Homo sapiens: one gene and its partners. The protein of the gene in region 1 purifies or fractionates together with the protein of each later gene. This does not show direct contact. Each region holds a gene or a part of one and is shown in the gene's direction. Other genes may lie near its edges. The genes, in order: PMPCA, ABHD10, OCIAD1, HLTF, SOST, UQCC2 and RPUSD2.

Evidence for each region.
Region 2: the proteins of PMPCA (region 1) and ABHD10 fractionate together in Homo sapiens (co-fractionation; one large-scale study listed by BioGRID). This does not show direct contact.
Region 3: the proteins of PMPCA (region 1) and OCIAD1 purify together in Homo sapiens (co-immunoprecipitation; one large-scale study listed by IntAct). This does not show direct contact.
Region 4: the proteins of PMPCA (region 1) and HLTF purify together in Homo sapiens (affinity purification with mass spectrometry; 2 studies listed by BioGRID and IntAct, with this or other methods). This does not show direct contact.
Region 5: the proteins of PMPCA (region 1) and SOST purify together in Homo sapiens (co-immunoprecipitation; one large-scale study listed by IntAct). This does not show direct contact.
Region 6: the proteins of PMPCA (region 1) and UQCC2 purify together in Homo sapiens (co-immunoprecipitation; one large-scale study listed by IntAct). This does not show direct contact.
Region 7: the proteins of PMPCA (region 1) and RPUSD2 purify together in Homo sapiens (affinity purification with mass spectrometry; 2 studies listed by BioGRID and IntAct, with this or other methods). This does not show direct contact.

What each region holds. Positions count from the first base shown.
Region 1 is NC_000009.12:136,417,158-136,420,657, forward strand, and holds part of PMPCA (mitochondrial-processing peptidase subunit alpha isoform 1 precursor), read left to right. Parts: coding exon 1-57; intron 58-859; coding exon 860-952; intron 953-1,397; coding exon 1,398-1,516; intron 1,517-1,670; coding exon 1,671-1,761; intron 1,762-1,886; coding exon 1,887-1,949; intron 1,950-3,500. UniProt on the Homo sapiens protein: Substrate recognition and binding subunit of the essential mitochondrial processing protease (MPP), which cleaves the mitochondrial sequence off newly imported precursors proteins.
Region 2 is NC_000003.12:111,982,026-111,985,525, forward strand, and holds part of ABHD10 (palmitoyl-protein thioesterase ABHD10, mitochondrial isoform 1 precursor), read left to right. Parts: intron 1-3,500. UniProt on the Homo sapiens protein: Acts as an acyl-protein thioesterase that hydrolyzes fatty acids from acylated residues in proteins.
Region 3 is NC_000004.12:48,844,588-48,848,087, forward strand, and holds part of OCIAD1 (OCIA domain-containing protein 1), read left to right. Parts: intron 1-3,500. UniProt on the Homo sapiens protein: Maintains stem cell potency. Increases STAT3 phosphorylation and controls ERK phosphorylation. May act as a scaffold, increasing STAT3 recruitment onto endosomes. Involved in integrin-mediated cancer cell adhesion and colony formation in ovarian cancer.
Region 4 is NC_000003.12:149,032,081-149,034,533, reverse strand, and holds part of HLTF (helicase-like transcription factor), read left to right. Parts: intron 1-2,161; coding exon 2,162-2,314; 3' UTR 2,315-2,453. UniProt on the Homo sapiens protein: Has both helicase and E3 ubiquitin ligase activities. Possesses intrinsic ATP-dependent nucleosome-remodeling activity; This activity may be required for transcriptional activation or repression of specific target promoters.
Region 5 is NC_000017.11:43,753,238-43,755,791, reverse strand, and holds the end of SOST (sclerostin precursor), read left to right. Parts: intron 1-28; coding exon 29-450; 3' UTR 451-2,054; downstream 2,055-2,554. UniProt on the Homo sapiens protein: Negative regulator of bone growth that acts through inhibition of Wnt signaling and bone formation.
Region 6 is NC_000006.12:33,701,701-33,705,200, reverse strand, and holds part of UQCC2 (ubiquinol-cytochrome c reductase complex assembly factor 2), read left to right. Parts: intron 1-3,500.
Region 7 is NC_000015.10:40,572,299-40,575,449, forward strand, and holds the end of RPUSD2 (pseudouridylate synthase RPUSD2), read left to right. Parts: intron 1-1,228; coding exon 1,229-1,963; 3' UTR 1,964-2,651; downstream 2,652-3,151. UniProt on the Homo sapiens protein: Pseudouridine synthase that catalyzes pseudouridylation of mRNAs.

The sequences.
Region 1 (3,500 bases):
GCAGAGGCCGTGGATATTGACAGATCTGTGGCCCAGTACACTGGGGGGATTGCCAAGGTGAAGTAGCGGGAACGTCTCATGGCCTCGGGTGGGGAACACGTCCCCTGGCCCGTGGTGTGACCTGTTTTTGTATTGATTCTGAGGGTGATAGGTGTTGACTGCATGTGTAGCTTTGCCTTAACACATGCTGTAGTCCCACAGCAGGGCATGGACTGTGTCCCCTGCTGAGAATGAGTGCTGCTAGGCCTGAGAGCAACACAAAAGGTGGATGCGGTTCTTTCTCTAGGGGAGTGGGTCTGCCACTGCGTGTTGCATTTTTTTTTTTTTTTTTTAGAGATGGAGCCTCGCTCTGTCACCCAGGCTGGAGTGCAGTGGTGCAATCTCGGCTTACTGCAACCTCCACCTCCCAGGTTCAAGTGATTCTTCTGCCTCAACTTCCCGAGTAGCTGGGATTACCACCACGCCCGGCTAAATTTTGTATAGAGATGGGGTTTCACTATGTTGGCCAGGCTGGTCTCGAACTCCTGACCTCATGATCTACCTGCCTCAGCCTCCCAAAATGCTGGGATTACAGGCGTAAGCCACCACGCCCAGCTTATATGTATATACATATGTTTTTTTTTTTTTGTCTTTTTGGTAGAGGTGGAGTTTTGCCACATTGCCTAGGCTGGTCTTGAACTCCTGGACTCAAGTGATCTGCCCACCTTGGCCTCCCAAAGTGCTGGGATTTTAGGCATGAGCCACTGTGCCTGGCTGGCATTGGATTTCTGTGTAACCACTCTGAAGATGATCTCATCTGGGGTTTGCGAGCCCTCATTGTTTTTCACATGGCGACACTTGCTTGTTTTCTTGGTTACAGCTAGAAAGAGACATGTCCAATGTCAGCCTGGGCCCGACCCCCATCCCCGAGCTCACGCACATCATGGTTGGACTGGAGAGCTGCTCCTTCCTGGTGAGTCCTGGTGCTGGGTCTGATGGCGTTCCTGATGCAGTGTGGCCGGCTCAGCCAGCCCTGCCCTCTGTCCCTGGCATCCGACAGCGCTCCTGATGGGGCGTGGGCGGCTCAGCCAGCTCTGCCCTCTGTCCCTGGCATCCAGCAATGCTCCTGATGCAGTGTGGGCGACTCAGCCAGCTCTGCCCTCTGTCCCTGGCGTCTGACGGCGCTCGTGACACAGCGTGGGTGGCTCAGCTAGCTCTGCCCTTTGTCCCTGGCATCCGACGGCGCTCCTGACGCGGCATGGGTGGCTCAGCCAGCTCTGCCCTCCGTCCCTGGCGTCCAGCGGCGCTCCTGACGTGGCTTGGGCGACTCAGCCAGCTCTGCCCTCCGTCCCTGGCGTCTGACGGTGCTCCTGACGTGGCGTGGGTGGTTCAGCCAGCTCTGCCCTCCGTCCCTGCAGGAGGAGGACTTCATCCCCTTTGCAGTGTTGAACATGATGATGGGCGGAGGTGGCTCCTTCTCGGCTGGTGGGCCCGGCAAGGGCATGTTCTCCAGGCTCTACCTCAACGTGCTCAACAGGTGGGTTGCACTCTTTTCTGTATCCTCAGGCCACCAGGCCAGGCCAGGTGTGTTTTTGGACCATGAGGCCACCTTCCAGGTGACTTTTCTCCAGTTTCCCATGGCCTGATCCTGGCGAGTCCCCTTCACTCCCATGACTCTCGCTTCCTCCCAGGCACCACTGGATGTATAACGCGACCTCCTACCACCACAGCTACGAGGACACTGGCCTCCTTTGCATCCATGCCAGCGCCGACCCAAGACAGGTGAGGGCCCCGCCTGCCACCGTCCTCAGTGCGGTTGCCTGTCCAGACCTGGGCGTCCCTGCCTAGACGGGTCAGTAGGCCGGCAGGCGCAGGCCACACTGTTATCGTCTTGCCCTTCTTCGCAGGTTCGAGAAATGGTAGAAATCATCACAAAGGAGTTTATTTTAATGGGCGGAACCGTGGACACGGTAAGTGCAGTGTGGCGCCATTTCCAGGCGTACCTGTGGTGTCTGACAGGAGACAGCCACGTTGTAGGAGTGGCCACCTGTGGGCCTGGTCCCTGAGCCTCAGGGCCAAGGTCCCGGCAGGGCAGGGCAGGGCAGGGCGGCCAAGGAGGCACAGCCTGGGGCTGAGCTGCTCCACCTGGGAGCCCGCTGAGGCTGTTCTTCCCTGGTCCAAACCCCGAAAACAGAAAAACAGACCACCGCCCTCCCCCAGTGCTCGGTCCACTACTTCTTTCTCTGAGCCACTGGGTGAGTCGTGGGACTGACCATGTGACTCTCTCAGCTTTGCTGGCGAAACGCTGCAGGAGTTTTTGTGTCCTTCTCAGCCGCCTCTGTGAGGTGACTGGGGTGAAGCAGCTCGCACAGGTGGGCTGCAGCGTGGGGTGTCTCGAGCCTTTCCCTGGCTCCATTCTATGTTTGAAACTGTATTTGTTTACCAATTTTTTTTTGTTCTTTTTAAGATGGAGTCTCACTGTCTCACCCAGGCTGGAGTGCAGTAGCTCAAATTCGGCTCACTGCAACCTCCACCTCCCGGGTTCAAGCGATTCTCCTGCTTCAGCCTCCCAAGTAGCTGGGATTACAGGCATGCGCCACCATGCCTGGCTAATTTTTGTATTTTTAGTAGAGACGGGGTTTCGCCATGTTGGCCAGGGTGGTCTTAAACTCCTGACCTCAAGTGATCCGTTGCCTTGGCCTCCCAAGGTGCTGGGATTACAATTACAGGTGTGAGCCACCATGCGTCCCTGTTTACTAATTTTTTAAGCTTAGTTTTTGATGCTTTACACATTTGGGAACCTCGTTACTTCCTGGACCAGAAGTGGTACAAATAAGCAAGTTTTATACACACACTTTTTTTTTTTTTTAGACAGAGTCTTGCTCAGGCTGGAGTGCAGTGGCATGATCTCAGCTCACTGCATCCTTCCACCTCCCGGGTTCAGGTGATTCTCCTACCTTAGCCTCCTGAGTAGCTGGGATTACAGGCATGTGTCACCACCCTAGCTAATTTTTTTGTTTTTTGTTTTCTGTTTTTTTTTTTTTTTTTTGAGACGGAGTCCTGCTCTGTTGCCCAGGCTGGAGTGCGGTGGCATGATCTCAACTCATTGCAACCTCCGCCTCCCGGGTTCAGGTGATTCTCCTACCTCAGCCTCCTGAGTAGCTGGGATTACAGGCACCCACCACCACACCTGGCTAATTTTTTGTATTTTTAGTAGAGATGGGGTTTCACCATGTTGGCCAGGCTGGTCTTGAACTCCTGACCTCAAGTCATCTGCCCATCTCGGCCTCCCAAAGTGCTGGGATTACAGGTGTGAGCCATTGCACGCAGCCCCATGGCTAATTTTTGTATTTTTAGTAGAGACAGGGTTTCACCACGTTGGCCAGACCGGTCTTGAACTGCTGACCTCAGGTGATCCACCTGCCTTGGCCTCCCAAAGTGCTGGGATTACTTTGGGATCCCGGTGTGAGCCACCGTGCCCGGCCAGGAAAAAAAGCATTCAAGAAATAAAGTTGTGGTTA
Region 2 (3,500 bases), on another chromosome or scaffold:
ACTTCTGTTCTAATCAGTTGAAGTAAATGCCAGCATTTTTATACATTATTTTAATGGTCTGTAAACTTGCATCTTGTGATTTAGGGTAATTTTAAAAGCAACCTTTAAAAGACCTTTTTTAAAGGCCTTTGTGCCACGCTGACAACCCTGGCAGAAAAGGACATCTTAAGGGAAATATTGGTAACTAAGCTCTTTAGAGGCAATAATGTATGTGACAACAAACAGATATACTAGTTGGCTTTCATACAGTCTCTTATATTATCATTTTCCACTGGGGACTTAAGGACTTTATTTGATCACTGTTTATCTAAAAGTAATACATGTATTTAAAAGTATCATAATGCAAATTTCTGCTGAGTTTTCTCTTCCCTCTCCTGTAATCTGAATATGTATAAGCATAAATAGGGATAAGTGGTACTTAACTCAAGCTTGATTTTATAATTCCTAATTTTTCACACTGAGAGTTATTTTAGTAAATAACTTTATGTTATTATAAGGTCTACCTGTAGCAGTTATATGTTTAGTATCCACTGTCCAGAAGAGATGGTATGATTTCGTAAAAAGAAGATTAGCCTGGAATTCAAGAAACATGAGTTCTAGAATAAATTCGAGCAATAACTATGACAAGACAAGTAAGTTAATAAACATTGGACCTAAGTTTGTCATCAAAAGAAGGAGGTTGGACTAGAGATAACTTCTGAGTTATTTTCTAGCACTAACAGCCTAAAAATCTATCCATCTAAATTTTTAGAAGAGTGACTCACAAACATTCATTCAATAATTCTAGAAAATACAGCTGTATATAAAACTTTCAGACTACCTGTTCAATATATTAGCAGCAATTATGTCAATTATAAAATTAAATAAGATTTAATCTTATTTCTTTTACCAAACTAATGAATTATTTTATTTTCATACTCAGAACTATGTTAAAATCTGTTCTGACTTATTCTGAAGATTGGAGTACTTTTTGGAAATAGATTCTCTAGCACTATACTGAGTGCTGCATAATAACAAAGAATTATAAAACATTGTACTTGCCTATGAGGACCTTTCATTCAGGGTGGGGAAACACAAGATAAAATACATGTTAGAAATTTGGCAGAAATACTCATCAGAATGTGATTGTGTCAAAAGAACAGTATACTTAATTGCATAAAGTTAGAGACAGTGGGATTGAAATAGATAAAGGAACGTTGAAGAATAATTCAGATTTGGGTGGGAGGGAAGTGCTGTCCAAGGAGGGGGACTGTCCTGAGCAGAAGATCATAATATCAAAAATATTGTTATCACTTTTCTTTTTTGCCACTGAATAAATTTGAATCGAGAAATCACCATTTTACCAGTTCTAAAATTTCAGCTTTGAGACTATGAGAGTTATAACCAGTTCCTGTCTCCCTATAAGACATAATGTGGCTTTTCTGCATTTTTGGATCCTGTGTGAGTATACCTTCATAAAGAATAGTGCTTAACTACAAATATTTAGTTTGAACAAGTTCCATTTTATTTGCTCTTATCAAAGTTCATCACAGTCTAATTATTGTTAACTATTGATTGCACTTTATTATAAGAGATTTTATCTTCTATTCTCTAATTTTTCAGGTTGCTTTTGTTGGGATTTTTTGCTGTAAAATTTAGATCTTCAATGATGAAATAGTTTATTACACAAGAAATAAAACATATGACTATATGAAAATGTTTTATTAAGGTCCTATCACCATGCCTAAAATAAGACTGATTCAGATCTCAGGAATATAACATATGGTTTTAAGGCTGGTATTCTCTCATAATTATTTGTAATAGAATTTTTATTTGGGACTACATCCCAGACTATTGAGGCTGCTAAGATGGAGATGTGCTACTGTTTAAAAGTTTTAAAGTGCTGAATATGTTTGGATTATCTTTGTCTCTGGATTGGGGTTCAGTGAGAGTTAACTATATTTTTTTAATGGTACCCTGTTAGTATCACCAAGTATTTATATTTTCCTTCATGAAGGAGCTGTACAAGTATTTTGCATCCTCACCATATATTTGGAAGGCAGCTAACTGTAAAAGATGCCACATTCAGCCATATCCAATTGCCACCTATGAAGAGAGAAAAGGAGAAAATTAGTTGGTGTCTTTCCCCCTTTTTTCTTCCACCCCTTCTACCCATCTCTTACATACCCTGGATTGAGGGGGAAACAGTAACTGATTTAGACTGCACCAGTTGCCCTGTTCTATTTCCCAAGGATCCAAAATCGTTTCACTTCAAACCTAAAGAAAAATTTAATTTCTTCTCTCCCCTATTTCTCATAAATCCCTTACTTACTGTACCAGCCATTCCACCAAAAAGGTTCATTTGAACTAGGCTCTGGGAAAGGATATCAGTAAAGAAGGGAAAATATATCAGTAAAGAAGATGATGGAAGAAGGTATTCCAGGTAAAGGAATCAACAGTGTGAGATGTGAAACACATAAGAAAACATAGACCTATTTTAGGAACAGTAAGTTCATCAATTTGTCTAAAGCAGTAGTATTCCCTGATGAAGTGAGTACTACTGTAAAATTTAGTAGTAAAAAAAAATTTACTGTAAAATTTATTGTGAAATCAATCTGAAATGACCAGAATATAATGGTTCAAAAAAACAGGCCAAAGCACTAAGTGTTTATGTTGTATATCACAGGGAGCACTGAAGGTAATGCTAAAATGTTAAAGAAAAAAACTGACATGTATATAGTGACTCTATTTAAAGACAGAGTCATAGAGACACAAGATAGAAGGCTACTGTGATAGTCTAGGTCTAAGATGACAAATAAACACCTACACCAAGATACTGGACTTACCAAAGTACCAAGAAAGGGATGAACATAAGAAGAAATGAGAAAGAATGGTGATGGTATAGGGCAGGCAGTATTCTGTGGCCTGGAAAAACAAACGAATAAAACAGCCTCCTCTTAAGGAACTGACATTCTAGTCAGAGGGAGATGAATGTTTAAAAACAAACTTGATTACAATACAATATGAAAAGTGTTGAGTACATACAAAAGAAAGTGACTGGTACTAAATGGGGCATATATGTCAAGTGAAGTTCCTCAGAGGAGGTGACATGACTTAAAGGGTGACTACGAATTTGGGTTGGGGAGGAAGCTGTTCTTGGCAGCAGAACAGCATGCTAAGGCTCTAAGTTATAAAAGGGTGTAACTGGGAATTAGGAGTAGTTCAGTATGACTAGAGTTTAGGTAACCTGTGGGTGTGGTATGATACTTTATACCACCATGATTTTTTATTGATTTGATACCCTTAAGGAGAGGTAAAATTCATAGATCAGACAGATAACTGAGCCTAGATAACTAGGAAGTTGGAAGGAGAAAGGGATGGGTTGGTGATGATGAATTTTATTCTGGTCTCCTTCCCTTCCATCAATTCACTAAATATACACTAAGCACCTACCACTCGCAAGGAACTGAACTAGGCACTAGGAACGCATTGAAACAAAGCTTGTGCCCATGTGGAACTTT
Region 3 (3,500 bases), on another chromosome or scaffold:
CCTGGGCAACAGAGCGAGACTCTGTCTCAAAAAAAAGGTAAAAATTGAGAGAGACTTTAAGAAAAGAATTTGGAATCCACCAAGACATTTTGCATTTAATCAAAATCCCTGACATTTTGTACAGTGGTCCTTTTGTGTCTGTGTGGATTGGTTCCAGGACCCTCCAGAGGATACCAAAATCCACAAAAGCTTAAGTCTCTGATATAAAACGGCCTAGTAAAGTTTACGTGCATATCTGCCTGTATACTGTAAATCATCTCTAGATTACTTATAATACCTAAGACTATGTAAACACTATGTAAATAGTTGTTATACTGTATTGTTTAGGGAATAATGACAAGAAACAAGTCTGTACATGTTTAGTATAGATGCAGTTTTTTTTTTCCTAAATATTTTCTATCCGCAGTTGGTTGCAGAACATGTACATATGGAGGGCTGCCTGTATCCCCTTTCATCCACAGTGTGTCATACTCCACGTGGTCTTAGATGTTCCTTCTGTTTCTTCCTGATCTGCCAAAACCATTTAAACATGCTCAGGTCTCCTCTAACTTGAGAACATTAAAAAGAAAAAAAAATCCTCCCTCATTTGTTTTTCCAGCTACTCCCAACTGCCTCATATTTGAAGCCAGAGGCAGACTTCATGAATGAGCCCTTCACTTTTTACTTCGTTTAACCCATTGCAGTCAGTGTGAGACTATCCATATGTTCTACCATTTATTGGAACTTTTCAAAAGTTCAAAAACAAACTTTTCAAAAACAACCTGTTTGTTGCTTAAATATAATGGACAGTTTTTGTTCTTGACCAACGTTACATAACTTTAACCAGTTTTTCTTGAAATAGTCTATTCTCTTGGCTTCCATGATGGCATATTCCTAAGATTTTTCTCCTACCTCAGGCGATTCCTCTGTTTCATGTTTTTTGAGTGTCTGATATGTACTATACATTGTTATATAGCACTAAACAACAAAAATTCATTAACTCTTGGTGCTTACATTCTTGTATGGGTTTTTTTGTCTAGTTGTTTGGGAAATGTTGGTGTTACTATATTTTGGATATAATATATAATATGTATGGCCCTTCTATAGGCTCCTCAAACAGAACTCAACCATTTTCCACAAAACCAATTCCTCCTTTCCCTTCATGACTGAGTGGTGTTAGTACTATCCAGGAAACTGGGACATTATCCTTCACATCTATCCCTTATCTGCCTTGTCCAATTAATGTCTTTTAGCTCTTAAATGTCTTTATTAACTATCTACCTCCATCTGTACTGCCAGCATAATTAATGCAACCATATGTCACAAAGAGTATTGCGTTAACCTTCAACAAATCTGTTTGTTTCCATTCTTGCTACTTCTCCTTAGGAAAATAAGCTATTTCTAGCACCTGACAGAGGACATACATAGTGCACATAGTACTCAAATATTTGAGGGGATGAATAGCAACCATGACACTATTATCTTTGTCTTAACTCTCTCTCTAGACTGTAAATTCCATGAGAGTAAAGAGTGTGTCCTGTTTCCTGTTAATATCCAGTATGTAGTACCTTTATGTTGTAAGTGGTCTATAACTAGTTGGTGACAGTATGAAGGAACAACTTTTTAATGTAAAAATAGAGATGTTCTTACCATCTTCCTTTTTCTATTGTCATCCCAGTTCTTATAAATGAAGGAACTGAGGCTAAAGGCACAGATTAGTTGTCTGTTTTTGTACTTTAATTACATGAAATCATACACTGAAATATTCTTTTATGTAAGTTCTTTCAACATGGTGAGATTCATCCAGTAGCATGCTGGAACTGGTTTGTACTGGCTCCTGAGAATTGGTTGTTAAATTTTCGGGAACTTTGGCAAGCTGGTTTTTAAAGTGTTGGTAGTTGGCCGGGTACGGTGGCTCATGCCGGTAATCCCAGCACTTTGGGAGGCTGAGGCAGGCGGATCATGAGGTCAGGTGATTGAGACCATCCTGGCCAATATGGTGAAACCCTGTCTCTACTAAAAATACAAAAAATTAACTGGGCATGGTGGTGTGCACCTGTAGTCCCAGCTACTTGGGAGGCTGAGGCAGGAGAATTGCTTGAACCCAGGAGGCGAAGGTTGCAGTGAGCTGAGATGGCGCCACTGCACTCCAGCCTGGGGACAGAGCGAGACTCGTCTCAAAAAAAAAAAAAAAAGAATTGGTAGCTTTACACCATGGAAACTGACAAACATTAAAATTAGAGCTTTTTATAGGGAGTGCTGGTTTACCAGCACATCATTGCACTTAACCACATTGTTGCATGTAGTTGCCCTATAGTTTTCCTCTGTGTGAATACACCAGTTTATCTATCTGAACTGTGCATTGATAATTGGTAGTTTTCAATTTTCACTGTTACAATTAGTTTTGCCAAGAATATGGTGCCTTTTTGATAGACATTTTGCTGGGTCATAGATTTTGTATATATTTATTTAGCTTTAGTAGATATTACCAAACTATTTAGACCAATGTATACTCCTACATTCTCACCAACACTAGCTATTTTTATGTCTTTTATGTTTTAGCCATTGTGGTAAATAAACACTAATATTGATTGCATTGTGGCTTGAATTTGTATTTCCCTGTAACCAATGAAGTTGAAGACCTTTCCATTTGTTTATACTTCATTTCAGCATATCTTTTTCTGTGAAGTATCTGTTTAAGTCTGTTAACCATTTTTCCATTGTATTGTCTTTTTTCCTATTGGTTTTGTGAGACTTCTCTGTATACTTTGGAATTGAGTCTTTTGTCAGATATAGATATGGTGATTATTTTTTCCCCACTCTGTTTAACTGTAGTTTTCAGTGTTAATAGAGTCCAATTTATCAGGTTTCTTCTTTCTAATAGGTGCTTTTTGTTGACTCTTTAAGATCTTCGTCTACTCTAAGGACACAAAGATGGTCTCATGCTTTCTTCTGTAAAATTTTTTAAAAAAATCTTTCATATTTAAATTTTTAAGCCATCTGGATTATTGTTCGATGTAGGATCAAGGTACATTTTCCCCTGTTAATGGATATTAATTGACCCAGCACTATATTTGAAAGGACTATGCTGCAGTGTTGTCTTTGTCATAAATCAAGTGTGCAGGTGTGGATCTGTTTCTGGACTCTTAGTTTTGGTCAGTTTGCCTATTCTTGTACTTAATACCAGACTGTCTTAATTACTACAGCTTTATCATGTAGATTTTGCTATCTGGTGGTAGTCAGTTCTATAATACGATTCTTCAGTGTTGCCTTGGCCCTTTGTGTTCCACATGACTCTTAGAATAAGCTTTTCAATTTTTGTAAAACTTTGATTTTAATTGGGATTGCATTGTATTTATAGGTGAAGTTATGGAGAATTGCCATCTTTAGAATATTGGGTCTTTCAATTCTCAGTAAGTTTTATAACTTGTCAGTGTAGAGATCTTTCATATCTTTCATTAGATTTGTTCCTGGGTTTTGAGCGTTTTTTTTTTTGGTGCTATAATTAATTCTGTCTTCTA
Region 4 (2,453 bases), on another chromosome or scaffold:
ATTCATGTTGTTGTGCAACAGCCATCACAATCATCCATCTCCAGAACTTTTTCATCATCTTAAACTGAAACTGTGTATCCATTAAATAATAACTTCCCATTCCTCTCCCCCCAGCCCCTGGCAACTACCATTCTACTTTCTTTCTCTGAATTTGACTACTCTACAAAACCATATAGATATATCGTAATATATTTAACCCATTAAGTTTTTTGCTAATAAAAACAGTGCCATAATGAGCATTATTATATATAAATCTTTTCACATAGATGCAAGTAATTCTTTGGGATAAGTTAAGAAAACTAGAATTCTGGATTTAGAATTTTTATCAACTATCGAGTTGGTTTCAAAATAGGATTTATATGAAAATTGTTAATTTATGCTTCTGTGGCCAAAAAAGTGCTGTTCTAATTTGCATTTACCTAAAACCTTGAGTATATTTCACATATCTTGTTTATTAACATTTTTTCTGTGAATTATTTATATCTTCTGTCCAGTTCTCATAGTTATGGTACAAATAGTTTTATAGTATAAAGGACTCCCTGATACAGTCTGACTTGAAATCTTTTGTTTATGTATGTTGAAAATGGTTTATCCCATACTCTTCCTTGTCTTTAAACTGCATTTTTTTGGTCATGAAAAAGCTTTAAAATTTTTATGATTTAAAACGTCAGCCTTTTTTATACGTTCTAGGTTTTAAGGTCTTACCTAGGACAGAAGGCTTTATTTTCACATTTTTTCAACTATTCTGTATTTACTTCTGGTTCTTTTGGAAGATTTTATTTTTTGTTTTATGATTTGTGACATGAGTCTAAGCTTATTATTTTATCAGATGAAGAACGATTTGTTCTGTCACATCATTTTTTTTCTTTGAAAATTCCAACTTTTTCCCTACTAGTATGAAATGTCACTTTCATCATAAACTAATTTATATATATTACTTGGGTCTTTTTCTAGACTATTCTGTTCCATTGATCTCTTTTCCTTTTCTTAGGGCAGTATTACTCTTATAACAACTATGGTTTCCTAAAGTAAGTTTTGATACCTGATAGGGTAAAATGTTCTGATGACCCTTTTTGAAAATTGTATTGGTGGTTATTATTATTGCTCTTGAATTGAACTTTAGATTTTAGTTATAAAATCCCATTTAAGATATCTTGAGATTTATTGAATTTATTATTACTTTCGAGAACTATCTTTCTTTATAAGTAACGAATGTTTCCATACAGGAACATAGTATCCTTTCTCCATTTATGTAGATCTTATATGTATTTCAGTAAAATTTTATTATATAGCTTTAGTTATTGCAGTAATTGGGTCTTCTTAAACAATGTTAAATAGTAGCAGATAGTGACCATTCTTGACTTGTTTCTGTTTTGTTGTAGAATACTTTTATTGTTTCACATTAAATATGTAAGGTTGAGACATTCATTCCTAGTTGGGGTATTTTAAAATCAAGTTTTTATCAGGAATGAGATGATCACGTTTTATTTTTCTCTTTGTTAGTGTTGTGAATTATACTAAAGATTCATTCTTGAATTTCTGGGAATAGTTTTTTGTTTTTTTTTTTTTTTTTTTTGAGACGTCGCTCTGTCACCCAGGCTGGAGTGCAGTGGCGCAATGTCGGCTTACTGCAAGCTCCGCCTCCCGGGTTCACACCATTCTCCTGCCTCAGCCTCCCGAGTAGCTGGGACTACAGGCGCCCACCACCATGCCCGGCTAACTTTTTCTATTTTTTAGTAGAGATGGCATTTCACCGTGTTAGCCAGGATGGTCTCGATCTCCTGACCTCATGATCTGCCCGCCTCGGCCTCCCAAAGTGCTGGGATTACAGGTGTGAGCCACCGTGCCCGGCCAGAATGGCCTTTTTAATACAATGCTGAAGTCATTTTGCCAGAGTTGCCTATATAGTTTGCTTTTTTTTTCTTTATTGCTTTGCTTATCTTGTGATCTGTAACTTCTATTCGTACAGCCATATTCTTTATATAAGAAAACCATATTGGGTAAGGAAAGCAAAGTTCAGTTCTATTAAATAGTTATTATAGTTTGGTGCAAAAGTAATTGCGGTTTTTGCCATTAGGCAAATCTTTCATTTAGTTTTTTTAATAAAGATTTTAAATACTATGCCTTAAAAACTACTTAACTTTTTTTTTTCTTTTTAAAGTTCATTGTAAAGGACTCTGTTGAAGAAAATATGCTGAAAATACAAAACAAAAAGAGAGAACTTGCAGCAGGAGCCTTTGGAACTAAAAAACCAAATGCTGACGAAATGAAACAAGCCAAAATTAATGAAATCAGAACATTAATTGACTTATAATTTGTGGGATTTTAGTAAGGTCAGTTTGATTGGATACTTAAGTTTTAGAAATGAGAAAAATACAGAGTTTTAGAAATGAGATCTAGAGAACACGTCTTCTAAAAGGGGCATATTTTATATTAGTGAAGAGGTATTACTG
Region 5 (2,554 bases), on another chromosome or scaffold:
CCACCCTCACGCGCGCCTCTCTCCACAGACGTGTCCGAGTACAGCTGCCGCGAGCTGCACTTCACCCGCTACGTGACCGATGGGCCGTGCCGCAGCGCCAAGCCGGTCACCGAGCTGGTGTGCTCCGGCCAGTGCGGCCCGGCGCGCCTGCTGCCCAACGCCATCGGCCGCGGCAAGTGGTGGCGACCTAGTGGGCCCGACTTCCGCTGCATCCCCGACCGCTACCGCGCGCAGCGCGTGCAGCTGCTGTGTCCCGGTGGTGAGGCGCCGCGCGCGCGCAAGGTGCGCCTGGTGGCCTCGTGCAAGTGCAAGCGCCTCACCCGCTTCCACAACCAGTCGGAGCTCAAGGACTTCGGGACCGAGGCCGCTCGGCCGCAGAAGGGCCGGAAGCCGCGGCCCCGCGCCCGGAGCGCCAAAGCCAACCAGGCCGAGCTGGAGAACGCCTACTAGAGCCCGCCCGCGCCCCTCCCCACCGGCGGGCGCCCCGGCCCTGAACCCGCGCCCCACATTTCTGTCCTCTGCGCGTGGTTTGATTGTTTATATTTCATTGTAAATGCCTGCAACCCAGGGCAGGGGGCTGAGACCTTCCAGGCCCTGAGGAATCCCGGGCGCCGGCAAGGCCCCCCTCAGCCCGCCAGCTGAGGGGTCCCACGGGGCAGGGGAGGGAATTGAGAGTCACAGACACTGAGCCACGCAGCCCCGCCTCTGGGGCCGCCTACCTTTGCTGGTCCCACTTCAGAGGAGGCAGAAATGGAAGCATTTTCACCGCCCTGGGGTTTTAAGGGAGCGGTGTGGGAGTGGGAAAGTCCAGGGACTGGTTAAGAAAGTTGGATAAGATTCCCCCTTGCACCTCGCTGCCCATCAGAAAGCCTGAGGCGTGCCCAGAGCACAAGACTGGGGGCAACTGTAGATGTGGTTTCTAGTCCTGGCTCTGCCACTAACTTGCTGTGTAACCTTGAACTACACAATTCTCCTTCGGGACCTCAATTTCCACTTTGTAAAATGAGGGTGGAGGTGGGAATAGGATCTCGAGGAGACTATTGGCATATGATTCCAAGGACTCCAGTGCCTTTTGAATGGGCAGAGGTGAGAGAGAGAGAGAGAAAGAGAGAGAATGAATGCAGTTGCATTGATTCAGTGCCAAGGTCACTTCCAGAATTCAGAGTTGTGATGCTCTCTTCTGACAGCCAAAGATGAAAAACAAACAGAAAAAAAAAAGTAAAGAGTCTATTTATGGCTGACATATTTACGGCTGACAAACTCCTGGAAGAAGCTATGCTGCTTCCCAGCCTGGCTTCCCCGGATGTTTGGCTACCTCCACCCCTCCATCTCAAAGAAATAACATCATCCATTGGGGTAGAAAAGGAGAGGGTCCGAGGGTGGTGGGAGGGATAGAAATCACATCCGCCCCAACTTCCCAAAGAGCAGCATCCCTCCCCCGACCCATAGCCATGTTTTAAAGTCACCTTCCGAAGAGAAGTGAAAGGTTCAAGGACACTGGCCTTGCAGGCCCGAGGGAGCAGCCATCACAAACTCACAGACCAGCACATCCCTTTTGAGACACCGCCTTCTGCCCACCACTCACGGACACATTTCTGCCTAGAAAACAGCTTCTTACTGCTCTTACATGTGATGGCATATCTTACACTAAAAGAATATTATTGGGGGAAAAACTACAAGTGCTGTACATATGCTGAGAAACTGCAGAGCATAATACTGCCACCCAAAAATCTTTTTGAAAATCATTTCCAGACAACCTCTTACTTTCTGTGTAGTTTTTAATTGTTAAAAAAAAAAAGTTTTAAACAGAAGCACATGACATATGAAAGCCTGCAGGACTGGTCGTTTTTTTGGCAATTCTTCCACGTGGGACTTGTCCACAAGAATGAAAGTAGTGGTTTTTAAAGAGTTAAGTTACATATTTATTTTCTCACTTAAGTTATTTATGCAAAAGTTTTTCTTGTAGAGAATGACAATGTTAATATTGCTTTATGAATTAACAGTCTGTTCTTCCAGAGTCCAGAGACATTGTTAATAAAGACAATGAATCATGACCGAAAGGATGTGGTCTCATTTTGTCAACCACACATGACGTCATTTCTGTCAAAGTTGACACCCTTCTCTTGGTCACTAGAGCTCCAACCTTGGACACACCTTTGACTGCTCTCTGGTGGCCCTTGTGGCAATTATGTCTTCCTTTGAAAAGTCATGTTTATCCCTTCCTTTCCAAACCCAGACCGCATTTCTTCACCCAGGGCATGGTAATAACCTCAGCCTTGTATCCTTTTAGCAGCCTCCCCTCCATGCTGGCTTCCAAAATGCTGTTCTCATTGTATCACTCCCCTGCTCAAAAGCCTTCCATAGCTCCCCCTTGCCCAGGATCAAGTGCAGTTTCCCTATCTGACATGGGAGGCCTTCTCTGCTTGACTCCCACCTCCCACTCCACCAAGCTTCCTACTGACTCCAAATGGTCATGCAGATCCCTGCTTCCTTAGTTTGCCATCCACACTTAGCACCCCCAATAACTAATCCTCTTTCTTTAGGATTCACATTA
Region 6 (3,500 bases), on another chromosome or scaffold:
AATTAGCCAGGCGTGGTAGCGGGCGCCTATAGTTCCAGCTACTTGGGAGGCTGAGGCAGGAGAATGGCATGAACCCGGGAGGCGGAGCTTGCAGTGAGCCAAGATTGTGCCAGTGCACTCCAGCCTGGGCGACAGAGTGAGACTCCATCTAAAAAAAAAAAAAAAAAGAAGTGAGAGTACCTGAGGGTCACTTTGCTTTTTGCACTTAGACTTTGTACATTTTGCTCTTATAGGAGCAGCACTCTGCAAGGGTGACCCGCCCCCCATGCCCCTCCTGTCTGTCCTGCTGCTCATCAGGGATGGGACTACGTGGCAAGGAAGGACAGCACCTTATACCACACCTGCTTGAGGGTGTGATACAAGGTTGCTGAGCAACCTACTGGTGACTTCTCACTGCTAGAGAAGTTGGAGCAGGAAGGGAACTTGAGTTGAAAGGTATTTGAGGGTGGGGATCTGGTCAGAATGCAGGTTTATCAGGAAGCAGTGTTAGGAGCCCAGGAGAGAGGCAGAGGCTATGGGAGGAAGGCAGATCAGCTTGTGGACTCCTTTCCTAAGAGCTTGGTTGGGAAGGTGGTGGGGATGGTGGCAGGACGGGAAGGTCCAGATAAGCGGCCATCAGGTGAAGACCAGGTACAGCAAACAGCTGCTCTCTCGGCAGACCATGGAGAGCTCAGTGACTGCTGAGAGCCACCAGGGTCAGTCAGGAGTGAAGCCTCAGCAGTTTTTCATCCTTCCTCACTTCCGTTTCCAGCGCCACCCTCGGCAGTGCACACCAGCCATGCTGATCCACTGGTAACATGCTGACCCATTCCCTGGGCACGGGCTCCACCTGGTCCTGTGCCTGGAGCACCCCACTCCCTTGCCGGTACATGCGCCCATCCTCAGCCACTCATTGTCCAGCACTTCCTGCCTGGCCCCATAGGCCCATAGCACCTTGTACATGCCCCTTCATTCCACTCCCACCAGGGTGGTTCTGAACTGTTCTGTCCTTTCCCCTCTTATTTTATGAGACAGGGGCCTGTGTTTACTACAACTCTTTACTACTAATAACTGTGAGAAAAACTAATCGCTCACATTTATCGGCGTTCCAGGCCCGGAATTCAGAGCAGCCCAAGCGTCACCTCATTTATCCTCACACCACCGGGGACGTAGGGGCTATTATTATATTTTCTTTTAAAAGAAAGGTTAAGTTGGCCAGTATGCTTTAAAAATGTTCAGTGCATGAAAGACAAAGGCCGAGGAACGGTCCCGGATTAAAGGAGACTAAAAGATACATGACTGTTAAATGCAGCAGGACATCCTGTTTTTCCATAGATTATTATTGAGACAATTGACAGAATTGGAATATGGACTGTGCATTAGATAATAGTGTTGTATCGGTGTTAAGTGGCCTGAATTTGATCATTGAACTGTGGTTATATAAGAGAATGTTCTTGTTCTTAGGAAATGCACACTGAAATATTATGGGGTGAAGGGGCATTATGCTCCTACTTTCAAGTGGATCAGAAGAAGGATATGTATGTACAGATACAGAGAAAGATAAACTGTGGCAACTTTTTTTTTTTTTAAGTGTATTTCATGGGGAAGAGTGAGTGGTTTGCCTGACATCACATAGCTGATAAGGGATGGTGCCAGGAGTCAACCCAGGCAGTTTGACTCCCCTGCTCCCTACAGCCTTGGAGATACTCATTCACCCAAGCGTCCCCTGCTCATAGATGGGCCAATCATGCTATAGGGTCTCGATGAATGTCTGTTAAATTTATAAGTGAGCACACTTTGGGAGGCCGAGGTGGGCAAATCACAAGGTCAGGAGTTCGAGACCAGCCTGGCCAACATGGTGAAAGCCTGTCTCTGCTAAAAATACACAAAATTAGCTGGGCGTAGTGGTGGGTACCTGTAATCCCAGCTACTTGGGAGGCTGAAGCAGGAGAATCACTTGAACCCAGGAGGGGAGTTTGCAGTGAGCCGAGATCACGCCATTGCACTCCAGCGTTAGCTCTTGGCTGTGCGTGCCCTGCTGAAGAAATGTTCCAGATGTGTTCGCCCAGATGTGTGCAGAATTCCATTCTAATGGGACTTTCCCTGGACAAGCTGACCAGCAGCAGGGAGACCACAGCCTCATATTTTCCATTCATTCTGTCCACTCAGATAATGACTTTATTATTCAGCAAACGCTGGCCACCTCCTCAGGCCATAATCCTTCCTCTTCTGATGTATCTGGGTGTACATTCTCATGATGAGTAGCCTGAACGCAGGAATGGGTCAGGTAGAACTAAATGATGGATTGTCTTTTTTGTTTGCTGTAAAGTAGGGACCTCATTTGACATGCACAGAGAGGCAGCAGTGGAGCTGCCTATTAAACCACTTTACTACTGATTTATTTATGCTCTGCCTTCTCCAAGGAAGGATTTAAGTTAGGAAAAAATCCATCATTTGAATTCTGGGGGAAAAAATATAAAAGAGAAAGTTTTGTTCTGGGGAGCTTTTCAAAATTCTTGGCAGAAAAATATAAAGAACTATACATAAATAATAGGAAGGACAGAGTAAAGGGAAAGTTAGAAGAGGTGCAAGAGAAAAGACCACACCTCCTCTGTATGCTGCCTGTCTCCCTGAGAAGGTCCAGCAGGGGCACTGCTGTCTCTGGCACCAGAGAATTGACTTACATCACCCTTTCTATGGCAAGGCCTCAGTGTTCTGGGCCATCTCCTTTCTAGCAGGACCTAACTGTGGTCCTGGCTTGGTTCTCCTCAGTTTACACATTTTATCTTAAATGTTGCCTTCTTCATGTTTCTTTCCTTCTTGTAGAGTTTCAGCAGCTCCCCACTTATCATAGATTGAGAACTCAGATGATTTTTTTTTTTTTTGCCTTTGCTAAAAGAATCTGTTGGTCTGAGGCCGGGCATGGTGGCTCATGCCTGTAACCCCAACACTCTGGGAGGCTGAGGCAGGTGGATCGCTTGAGGTCAGGAGTTCGAAACCAGCCTGGCCAGCATGGTGAAACCCTGTCTCTACTAAAAAATACAAAAATTAGCTGGGTGTGGTGGCACATGCCTTTAATCCCAGTTACTCAGGAGGCTGAGGCTGGAGAATTGCTTGAACCCAGGAGGCGGAGGTTGCAGTGAGCCAAGATTGCGCCACTGCACTCCAGCCTGGGCAATAGAGTGAGAGACTGTCTCAAAAAAAACAAAAGAATCTACTGGTCTGGCCTGAAGCATCCCACAGGATTCCTGCCTCCTCTTCCTTGCTGACGGCATCTCCTCCCCCAGGAAGGCCTGCCCTTCTCCCTTCTGCTTGCTGACCTTCTGCTTGCTGACCTTCTGCTGTGCTTCCTTCAGAACCTAGCATTGTCTCACTTCCATCATGCACTGACCACTTGAGCATGCGGGGACTCCCCCACTGAGTCCCTGTAGCCCACTCTGCCCAGCACCCCCTTTGTTAGGCACGCCTTTCCAACCTTACATTTCTATTGTGGCATCTCCCACTGCAGCTGGTGTCGTGGC
Region 7 (3,151 bases), on another chromosome or scaffold:
ACGCCTGTAATCCCAACACTTTGGGAGGCCGAGGCGGGCAGATCACGAGGTCAGGAGATCGAGGTCATCCTGGCTAACACGGTGAAACCCCGTCTCTACTAAAAAAAAATACAAAAAATTAGCTGGGCGTGGTGGCGGGCACCTATAGTCCCAGCTACTCGGGAGGCTGAGGCAGGAGAATGGTGTGAACCCAAGAGGTGGAGCTTGCAGTGAGCCGAATCGCGCCACCGCACTCCAGCCTGGGTGACAGAGTGAGACTCTGTCTCAAAAAAAAAAAAAAAAACTTACCCTGGCATGGTGGCACATGCCTGTAGTCCCAGCTACTTGGGAGGCTGAGATAGGAGGATCACTTGGCCATGGGAGGTTGAGGCTGCAGTGAGCCATGAGCATGTCACTGCGTTCCAGCCTGAGCTATAGAACAAGACTCCGTCTCAAAGAAATAAATTAACATAAGAAAATAAAGTGCTGACAGGCTGAGCAAGGCTTTTAAGATTATGGGGAGAGCCTGCTTGGTGAAAAGATTCTAGATGTAGTTGGAAAAGTCTTGGGTAGAGGAGTTTAATGGTAATGATTGTTGTCCTGAGACTTGTAATTCTGGATCTGAATCATAATACATTTATTGAGTGCATGCTATATACCAGGCTTAGTATCAAGCACATTAGAGCCTAACTTACTGAATGCTTATCACAGCCCAATGAGGTAAATGCTTTTCTTTTCTTTTCTTTTTTTTTTTTTTTTTTTTTGAGATGGAGTTTCGCTCTTGTTGCCCAGTCTGGAGTGCAATGGTGTGATCCTGGCTCACTGCAACCTCCGCCTCCTGGGTTCAAGCAATTATCCTGCCTCAGCCTCCCAGGTAGCTGGGATGACTGGCATGCGCCACCACGCCTGGCTAATTTTGTATTTTTTAGTAGAGACGGGGTTTCTTCATGTTGGTCAGGCTGGTCTCGAACTTTCGACCTCAGGTGATCCACCCACCTCAGCTTCCCAAAGTGCTGGGATTACAGGCGTGAGCCACCTCACCCAGCTGGTAAATGCTTTTCTAATTTCACATTTTCTAGATGAGTTAGTAGGATTTAGAGGTTAAGTAATGTACCCAAGATCGCAAAACTGGCGAATGGTAGAGCTGGAGTTTGAATTTTCTGACACTGGTCCTTATCACTCCACAAAGAGTTTGGACTCCATGAATTTAGGCTTTGTACTGACTTTCTCCCTCTTCCCTCCTATGTAGCTGGAGAAGGAGTACGTGTGCCGGGTGGAAGGGGAGTTCCCCACTGAGGAAGTGACCTGTAAAGAACCCATCTTAGTGGTGTCTTACAAAGTAGGGGTGTGCCGTGTAGATCCCCGGGGCAAGCCCTGTGAGACAGTGTTCCAGAGGCTAAGCTACAATGGCCAGTCCAGTGTGGTACGGTGCCGGCCACTCACAGGCCGCACACACCAGATTCGAGTCCACCTTCAGTTCTTGGGCCATCCCATTCTCAACGACCCCATCTACAACTCAGTTGCCTGGGGTCCTTCTCGAGGCCGGGGCGGCTACATTCCCAAGACAAACGAGGAGTTGCTACGGGACCTGGTAGCAGAGCACCAGGCCAAACAGAGCCTGGATGTGCTAGATCTCTGTGAGGGTGACCTGTCCCCAGGACTCACAGACTCTACGGCCCCCTCCTCAGAGTTGGGCAAGGACGACCTGGAAGAGTTGGCTGCAGCTGCCCAGAAGATGGAGGAAGTAGCTGAGGCAGCCCCTCAGGAGTTGGACACAATAGCCTTGGCATCAGAGAAGGCAGTTGAAACAGATGTCATGAATCAAGAGACAGACCCACTCTGTGCAGAGTGCCGGCTGGTGCGACAGGATCCCTTGCCCCAAGACCTTGTGATGTTCCTACATGCCCTACGCTATAAAGGGCCAGGCTTTGAGTACTTTTCACCAATGCCTGCCTGGGCACAGGATGACTGGCAAAAGGACTGAGGGTGTGGCCAATGGAGGGATTGCTTCTTGGGTTGTGACAAGGATGGGCTATAGGGCAAGGGCTGACCCCATGGGCTAGTACTTGGGGTTTCTATAGGAATGAGGACGGGCTTCTAAAGAGACCTGCTCATACTTGCTACCTCCTTCCAGTGGGAATTTGGAGACTTTTTGGTTTGTAAATATATCCCTTTTTCTAACATCTTTGATGTCTGGTTTTCTTCCGGCTTCTTTTTTATTACTGATGTAAAATTCACATAACATAAAATTAACCACTTTAACTAGCCAGGCACAGTGGCTCATGGCTATAATCCTAGTACTTTGGGAGGTAGAAGTGAAAGGATCACTGGAGGCCAAGAGTTCAAGGTTAAAGTGAACTGTGATTGTGCTGCTGCACTCCAGAGCCTAGGTGACAGAGTGAGACCCTGTCTCTTAAAAAAAAAAAAAATTAACCAATTTAAGATGTACAGCGTAGTCACATTTAGTACATTCACAGTGTTGTACAACCATAACCTCATATATTTCCAAAACATTTTCATCACCCCAAAAGGAAACCTGTACCCATTAAGTAAGTGGTCACTTTCCACTCCCCTTCCACCAGCCTCTGGCAACCACTAATCTACTTTCTGTCTGTTTGGATTTGCCTGTTTATTCTGGACATTTTATATAAATGGAATGATAAAACATGTGACCTATGTCTCTGTTTCCCTTGGCATAATGTTTTCAAGGTTTATTCAACTTGTAGCATGTATCGGTACTTCATTCTTTTTTTATGGCAGAATAAGCTGTTGTATGGATATACCACGATTTGTCTATCTGTTCATCAGTTAATGGACATTTGGGTTGTTTCCACCATTTCATTATTGTGGATAGTGCTGCTGTGAACATTAAATATGTTTTCAGTTCTTTTGGGTATATACCTCACAGTGGAATTGCTGGGTCATATGGTAATTCTATGTTTAAATGTTTGAGAATCCACCAAACTTTTCCACAGCAGCTGAACCATTTTATATTGCCACCAGCAAGCATAGGGTTTCAATTTCTCTACATCTTCACCAACATTTGTTTTGTTTTGATTATAGTCATCCTAGTAGGAGTGAAGTGGCATCTCATTCTGGGTTGTTAGTCTTTTTGTTGTGGAGTGTAAGTGTTCTTTATATATTCTGGATGTGAGAGTCTTAGCAAAAAGAC